Regions from separate parts of the Homo sapiens genome. Here region 2 is linked to region 1. Evidence: fine-mapped expression QTL. A gene starts in region 1. The other region holds a variant in brackets. All regions are shown on one strand. Distances are from middle to middle. Region 1 holds the start of ZC2HC1A (zinc finger C2HC-type containing 1A). Region 2 overlaps IL7 (interleukin 7).

Region 1 (4,404 bases):
ACCAGAATTCAACTGTTTTGCCCTACATAATTTAGGGCAACTTCACATATTTCAACTCAGTTTATCACAATTAAACACATTATAGTTAATGATAGCATCTTATTTTGTAAAAAAAAAAAATCTAAAAGTAAAGGGCAAGCACTATTAACATCATAAGCTGGGCCCTATAACATCATAAGCTGGACCCATAAAATATGCCTATAAATACAGAATCCTACCTTTGTCCACCTATGCAACTGAGTGTCATAATAGGTTTCCATTATATTTTAAAAACATTCGTAGTAAGGTTTCAATAGTAATATCTTAGCACTGTTAAAATGTAAGGTCCACTAAAATGTAGGTTCGATGAGAGTAAAGCTTTATCATTTTTATTCTTTGCTGCAACCTAGAACCTAAAAAGATGCCCATAATAGACATTTATTTAACAACAAATATTTATTGAGTACCTACTTTGTGTCAGACATTGTTTTAGGTGCCTAGGATACATAAGTGAAAAATCAGATGATGATCTTTGTCTTAATAACAAATGTTGAATAAAATAATAAAAATCTGCAAACTGTTCAAAACACTTTATAGATAATATGTAATAAAACCTTATCATATTATATATGATAATCTCATGAGAATTCCATAACCCATGCTTTAATCCCACCAAGATACAAAAGTATCTTGAAAGTAAAATATACTGTACTATCATTACAATTCCTTATTTCATGGAAACTTGAATTATCTTCCAAAAACACATAAGCAAAAAACAAGACCTTCATTAGGCCATAGCATACTGCAGCTGTCCACAAACGGAAAATTATCAGAATCATTTATCAGAGCAAAAGCACGAAATAAACTTCTACTCATGTTATTACATCTGCTTTTTGGTGAATAGGTGACTGAAAAAGTTACCGGCTACCACTTTGCACTTCATCACACAATGTAGAATATTTTACTCCCTGGCATGCAACAATACACAAGACTCAAAAGCTTCTGCTCATTCTTAATTCCAACTGAATCCGTGTAAACTAGGAGACGGGGGAAAGGAGCTAAATCAAGACAATAGGATCTTTCAATTCTGAAGGTTTGTTCTTCATCATAACAAATTAAAAAATCTTGAAACTGTTGTTGCCAATGCTAGTTATTGTGGTTTTTGTCCTTCCTTTGTTTTTAGGTGAATGCTTTCATTACACAGGATAAAATGGGTAAACAGAATAGAGAAAAAGTGAAAGAACTGGGAACAAAGCAAAATCTGGAGTCATGGTTACAGTACAAAGATAAACCCAAAGATAAGGAACCAATACAGGCTCTTCCTCACACAGCGGCCGTGAATAAGTCATCAAATCCTCCGGGTAATCTATTGTACCGGCTCTAAAGCTGGCCAGTGACACTTCCTTAGGAGATGCTCTGACATCCCTCCGACAGAAGATGCTGTCGAAATGTAAAAAGCCGGTTACCTAGGGAAATCGGCCAAGGAATGTCAGGAGCTCGAGGCTGGAGACACACCCCGGGGCTGCAGCACAAAGTGGCCTGTTGGTGTTAAGGCCGTGGACAATAATGGAGAGAGTCCAGTACAAGGAAAACAAAATCTGGCCAGAGACTGGGATCACTAAAAGGGCACTCAGGAGTCAAGCAAGATCAGAAAATGGTAGGAAGAGACGTGCAGGCGTCTTGCCAGGGGCAGGATCTGGCTCCGGGCGGGAAAGCCCAGTTGAAGACCGTCTGAGGCGGGGCAGCCTGGTAGCGTTAGCTCCACCGCATCGGGGACTGTCCGGTTCCCTTCGGCCCCAGCCTCCGGAGGCGCGGCGGGACGCGGCGAGGTCCGCCGCACCGAACCAGCCCTCGCCTTCCTGCTACTGGTGTCCAGGGTCCCCAGCTGTTTCGGGCCCGCTCTAGCCGTCCTGCCCTCATCCCTTCATCGCCTCACCTTCCAGTCCCTCCATCGCGCCACCTCCTCGAGCTCAGCGAGACTCCTTCAGCAGCGCCCGCCACCGCCCAGCTCTGGCTGTAGCAACCCAGCCGCACCTCCCACCCGCTAACATTCCGAGCTCCCATTGGTTCCGCAACTGCGGGGGCGGGGATCCGTGGGGGCGGGGCCGCGGCGGAGGCGAGGTTCCTGCGGTCTCCTCCTGGCTGCCACCCCTGTCCGTCTCTCCGGGTTACTCTCCAGGGAGCCGGGAGCCGCTTCAGGTTGCAATCTGCGATGCAACGGCGCCTTTGTTTGACTCCAGCCTTGTTTTGCCTCATACCTTATCCTCCTATTTAGAGTACCTCAGCACCTCATGGGCTCCGCTTCACCAGTTCCTCAATCAGTCAATGCCTCTGACTTCTAGCCGCCATCCCTCCCAGTGGATACTTTAAGCAGGCAAGCAAACCAAACAAACGCCCAGCACGCTTGCATGCAGCAATCTCCGTTTTCCGGTCTTTGGTCGCATGACTTGACCTCAGCGTATCCCCTACACTTGATCTTCACACACAGCTTCATAGGTTAAGACACTTTTTTTCCAGAGAAATCATACTTTCTATCTGCGATTGTGGAACTGCGATTGCTCTAAGCCCTTGAAAACAGTTTCCTCACCATGAAAGCTTGGGCCAAAAATTAGAAGTGAAACCCAGCCCTCCCTCTGTCTTCTACTCTTGGCCTACCTTGGCCCTATACTTTATCATCCATAAACCAAAACAGTCGCCTGGCCTGACAATGTTTGATCGGGGAAGTTTGAGTTGGGGAATTAACCTACAACCTGACAGAATGAGGCCCGCCCGTCTCTAACAGAGTTCAAAACCTCCTGAAGATGAAAGTAACTTCAAAACTAACTCAGACCATTTTAACGGTTTTGCTTACAATTACCAGAACTACATTTCTTTGAAAATTTGATTTAGCAATCGTAAACAAGCTGTACTGTTTGCTGACTATAGCGTATCTACTGGCAAGTTACCAGTATTAATGTGTTGTCCATAACAAACCTCGGATTAATGTTATTGTTAATCTGTTTAATTGAAGAGTTTAACTTCATATCTAACTTCATCTACTATGAAATCAGTTACCTTCAGGAAGCAGGATTCCTCCTACTCTCCACTCACATGAAGGTATGTTTAAACAAGCAAACACTTGAGGGGGCATCATCTCTTACTGAGAAGGTGCTCCAAGTGCATTTGAATGTGGTAGAGTCCATCTGTTGTGTGGAGCCATGTAAAGACCACTTCAACCATGCCTCAATGACTCCCTCCGCCCTTCCCTGGTTCCCCTGGCTCTTCTGCTTCTCTGAGATCCTGGGCCTCCTTGGCCAACCCATAGCCTTGCAGGCAATAAGCTACTCTAGACTGGGTGCTGCGGAAAGGTCCTTTTTCTTCCTTAGTGCTACTAAGGCAAAGGTAGAATTTTTGGTTGGGAGGGAAGGCCTTTTAAAAGAGCATTAAGGAGAAAAAAAAGCACACAGAAGAAAATACAAAAATAAGGAAGCCATTATTTTACAAATTACAAGTTCTTTCACTGAAGGCAAGACGAATATTGAGTTGGCTGATACCTTATTCGACATAAAATCTACAGTAACATTAAAAATAATAAAAATAGCATTAAAGAATAAATCATGTGAGGCATGTTTTAGGCCATTTTCATATATTCACAAATCTTCAAAAGAAATCTACAAAGTAGATACTACAATCTTCATTTATCAGAATTAAAATGTTCATTTTCTAGATGTCTCAGAGCAATTAATATTTTGTCAATATTTGTATTATTAGTGGATGGTAGAGCTTGGCTACACTCTTGTCTGTTAAATTCTAAAGCCTATGGTGATTTGATTGGGCTCCTCACTCCCTTTCCTTGCCTTGCCTTTTATTATAGCTGCCTCAAGTGTAAACCCAAGCGTTCAGACATGTTGTTTAACATATATTTGAGTAGGCATTTCTATTGTGAATCTTAATTCTCTAAAACATGATTGCTAGTCTTCCCTACAGGTATCTTCATAACTTTTATGCTTTTGGTCTCTTCATAACTTTTACGCTACAGCTACCCTGGCTCCTGCAGCTTTTCCCTGATTCTGACCCCTGAGTAAAGAGGACTTCTTCCTATCTGCCTTCAATAAGTTCTTTCCTCTGCCGCCTACATACCTAGCCTGAGAGTCTTGTCTTGGCACTGTATCATGACATTACTTCCTCTCCAGTCTAATCCATTTTTCGGCATGCATTCATTCAACAAATGTTTGTTGAGTACCTTCTATGCTTCAAGTCCATTTTATCACTAGCCAGTTACTCAAATGAATGAAACTCAGCTTCTTCTCATGTTTTTAAGCACTTACCTGTACATAATTTTTCTACCTGCCATGTGATCTTGTTAACTGAAAATAACATTTATAGATCAATAAGAATTCGAGATCTTCTGACCTCCTTATCATACAAAAAGGAAAACAAACTTTC
Region 2 (4,404 bases), 130 kb before region 1:
AAGATGTAAATGGTGTTCTGGAAGTAGTAAAGAAGCAATTTTGGCCTGTGTAGAAGTTTCAGCAAGTTATCCAGAAGGTCTAGCTAAGATGATTGGTAAAAGTGGCTACACTAAACAACAGATTTCAATGTAGATGAAACATCCTTCTACTGGAAACAGGCGACATCTAGAACTTTCATAGCTAAAGAAGAGAAGTCAATGCCTGGCTTCAAAGCTTAAGAGGACAAACTAACTCTCTTGTTAGGGACAAATGCAGCTGGTGACTTTAAGTTTTAGCAAAATATTACTGCTCATTGACAATGCAAAACTAGTCACCCAAGAGTGCTGATGGATATTAATGTTTTCATAACTGCTAATATAACATCTGTTTTTCAGCCCGTGAATCAAAGAGTAGTTTCAACCTTCAAGCCTTATTTTTTAAGCCATGTATTTTTGAGGCTATGGCTGCCAGAGATAATGATTCATCTAATAGATCTGGGCAAAGAATTGAAACCTTGTGAACAGCATTCATTGTTCTGTAGTAGATGTCCTTAAAAACATTTGTGATTCATGGGAGGAGGTCAAAATATCCACATTAACAGGAGTTCGGAAGAAGTTGATTCCAACTGTCATAGATGACTTTGAGGGGTTCAAGACTTCAATAGAGAAAGTAAATGCAGATATGGTAGAAATAGCAAGAGAATTAGAATTAGAAGTGGAGCCTGAAGATGTGACTGAAATGCTGAAATCTCAGGATAAAACTGGAATGGATGATGAGTTGCTTCTCAGGCATGAGCAAAGAAAGTGGTTTCTTGAAATGATTTTACTTTGAGTAAAGATGCTGTGAACATTGCTGAAATGACAAGAAAAAATTTAGGATATTACACAAAATTAGTTGTTAAAGCAATGGAAGGATTTGAGAGGATTGCCTCTAATTTTAAAAGAAGTTCTACTGTGGATAAAATGCTTTCAAACAGTATCACATGCTACAGAGGAATCTTTTATGAAAGAAAGAGTTAATCTATGTGGCAAACTTCATTGTTGCCTCATTTTAAAAATTACTACAGCCACCCAACCTTCAGCAACCACCACTCTGATCAGTCAGCATCCACTAACGTTGAAGCAAGGCCCTCCACCAGCAAAAAAGTTTACAACACCCTGAAGGCTCAGATGATTGTTAGCATTTTTCAGCAAAAAATTCTTTTTAAATTAAAATGTATACATTGTTATTTTAGACATAAGACTATTGTACACATAATAGACTACAGTATAGTGTAAACATAACTTTTATATGCTGGGAAACCAAACAAAATTGTATGACTCACTGTATTGTGATACTTGCTTTACTGCAGTGGAACCAAACCCACAGTATCTCTGAGGTATGCCTGCAATAAATTATGCAATCATTATCACTATCTAATTCTAGAATATTTTCATCATTGCCAAAAGAAATATTCTACCCATTAGCAGTAACTCTTTATTCCCCATCACTAGCCTCTGGCAGCCACTATTCTGCATTCTGCTTTCTGTCTCTAGGAATTTGCCTATTCTGGACATTTCACATCTGTCTTGTATATAATTCATATGGATGATATGCAGCTTTTTGTATTGATCTTGTTTGCCTTAGTATAATGTTTTTAAAATTAATCCATATGATAACAGGAGTTAGTATTTCATTTCTCTTCATGGCTCAATAAAATTCTGTTGTATGGATATGCCACATTTTGTTTATCCATTCATCAATTTCTGGACATTTGGGTTTTCCATTGTTTGGCTATGCAAGTTTTTATACAATTGTCTTGATATGTTCCTAGTAGTCAAATTGTTGG[A/G]TTATATGGTCACTCTGTTAAACTTTTTGAGAAACTGCAAACTGTTTCTAAAGAGGCTGCACCATTTGCGTTTCTATCAGCAGTTAAGGCTCTGATTTTTCTACTTTCTCACCAAAGCTTGTTATCATCTAACTTTTTATTCTAGCTATCTCTGTGGGTGTGAAGTAGTATCTCATAGTGATACTGATTGGCATTTCCTTGATGACTAATGATGTCAAGCATCTTTTCATTATTGGCTGTTATTATCAGCCATTTTATATATCTTCTTTTGGAGAATTGTTTATTCAAATCTTTCACCCACTTTTAAATTGGATTATTTGTCTTTTCATTTTTATAGTTGTAAGAGTTCTTTATATGCTCTGGATCTTAGACCTTTATCAGATATTATATTTTTTCCTCCCATCATTTGTATTGTTTTTTATTTTCTTGATAGTGTCCTTTGAAGGACATTTTTAACTTTTATGAAGTCCAATTCATTTACTCTTGTTGCCCATGTTTTTGTTTTCATATCAAAGAAACTATTGCTTAATCCAAGACAACAAAGATTTACATCTATGTTTTATTCTAAGAGCTTTATAGTTTCAGTCTCACATGTTGGTCTTTGATTCATATTGAGTTAATTTATGTACGTGGTGTGAGGTAGGGGTCCAACTTCATTCTTTTTCATGTGGCTATACAGTTGTTCCTGCATCTGATATTGAAAATTATATTTTCCCTCATTGAATGTCTGGACACCCTTGTTGAAAATAAATTGAACTCAAATGTATGGGTTTATTTCTGACCTCTCCATGGTAATCCATTGATATATAATCCCTATGCCAGGACCAGACAGTCTCAATTACTGTAGCTTGGTGTTTAGTTTTGAAATCAGTTTTGTCTTTCAATTATGTTTTTATTTTCTTAAAATCATTTATACTGATGAAATTGCTGATATTTATTTTATGGATTGACTACCTTTTTTTAGGGATTAGTATATTAAATAGCTTTATAATTTAAATGCAATCTAAATCTCTCTGGTGATGTCATATCTCTGAGCAATTACTAAACCATGTGACTCCATATACTAGTAAGTATGGTCCAGTGAGTGGCATGGACAGAAGTAATGACAGACTGTAGAGAAGTGGTGGGGAGCTTAAGAGTATTCTCTTCCTTATAGCTCTCAAGATCCGTTTTCATTCTCCCATTAGATTTTGATGATATGCTCATCATTTGGTAAGAGCACATGATAATATATTAAGTATAATGTTATTGATTTATTTAGAGACAGAGTCTCACTCCATCACCCAGGCTGGAGTGCACTGGTGTGTTCTTAGCTCATTGAAATCTCCACCTCCCAGGTTCAAGCAATTCTTGTGCTTCTGCCTACCAAGTAGCTAGGATTACAGGCATGTGCCACCACACCCAGCTAATTTTTGTATTTTTAGTAGAGATGGGTTTTTGCCATGTTGGCCAGGCTGTTCTCAAACTCCTGACCTCAAGTGATCTGCCTGCTTCAGCCTCTCGAAGTGCTGGGATTACAGGCATGAGTCACTGTGCTTGGCCTAAGTATAACTCTGTAATTGTCCTATCTGTTTAAAACATCTTTCCATTCATAATTCCCTTATTTTCTTACTTTTGATATATAATTTTATTTTTATGTAGTGACATCTATATAATAAAATTTCAGATGGTTCAATTTGGGCACCAAGGTGGGAGGGATCAGGGACTGGTGTGAAATTGATACAGAAATAGTTTTCCTATAAAGCCACAAATAAGTGATACTTGGAGAAGAAAGAACTTGTCTTTCCCCCTTGAATAATCTTGGCATCCTCATCAAACATCACTTCACCAGAGATGTATGGGTTTATTTCTGGACTCTCCAATTCCATTTTGTTCATCTGTATATCTGTCCTGGGTCAGTACCAAACTGTCTTTATTACTCTTTCTTTGGATAAGTTTGAAATCGGGAAATATGAATCATTTTACTTTTTTTTTTTTTGAGATTGTTTTGGTTCATGCATAAACTAATTTGGGACCATCATTTTCGTAATAATGTTTAAAAATGCTTGTGGTCCATGAACATGGGATTTTTGTTCCATTTATTTGTATCTTTTAAATTTTCTTTTAACAATATTTTATAGTTTTCAGAATATAGGTTTTACCCTTCTTTTGTTAAATTTATTCCTAAGTATCTTATGTCTCTTTAATGCTATTGCAAATGGAATTTTTTCTTTATTTTAAAATTATCTATGATTTCTAACTCTCCACTCCTTGTATACTTACCTAAGTATGTGTCTTATTTCCCCGTACTAGTCCATATGTATATTAAGGACAGATTTTATGTTTGAGTCATCTTTGTATCTCACAGACTATTAGCCCAGCATCTTACACGTAGTAGTTTTTCAAATGTTTAATTAATAATTTATGGATTGTTAATCAACACCATAAATTAATGAAAACCCAGAGCTAATTTTGAATAATCTAGGAAGCCTGTTTTTTTAACATATGTTCTTTGGAAATTTGTTATGAATTAAATATCAGGTACTTTTTGATATCAATATGAACTAGTTTTGGATGTTATACAATATTTTTTATCCATAAAAAATTATTTTACCTA

The links. PIP is the estimated chance that this variant, and not a neighbour inherited with it, causes the effect.
Region 2: its variant is the best candidate, but not a certain one, in a credible set for the expression of ZC2HC1A in whole blood (TOPMed, PIP 0.80).

What each region holds. Positions count from the first base shown.
Region 1 is chr8:78,663,676-78,668,079 of GRCh38, reverse strand. ZC2HC1A (zinc finger C2HC-type containing 1A) reads right to left here and starts at 1,991. Exons shown (of 9, transcript NM_016010.3): 1 at 1,916-1,991. The coding sequence starts at 1,931. It overlaps LOC105375911 (a long non-coding RNA gene), which reads left to right and starts at 2,101. Exons shown (of 4, transcript XR_007060972.1): 1 at 2,101-3,075. RefSeq lists enhancers at 1,838-1,887, 1,852-2,359, 2,360-2,868 and a silencer at 1,958-2,177.
Region 2 is chr8:78,790,304-78,794,707 of GRCh38, reverse strand. The region is part of intron 2 of IL7 (interleukin 7); the gene reads left to right. Among named protein-coding and RNA genes, the nearest start is that of MITA1, 12 kb to the left of the region's middle. RefSeq lists a silencer at 3,387-3,587. The variant A/G (reference allele first, on the strand shown) is at 1,809.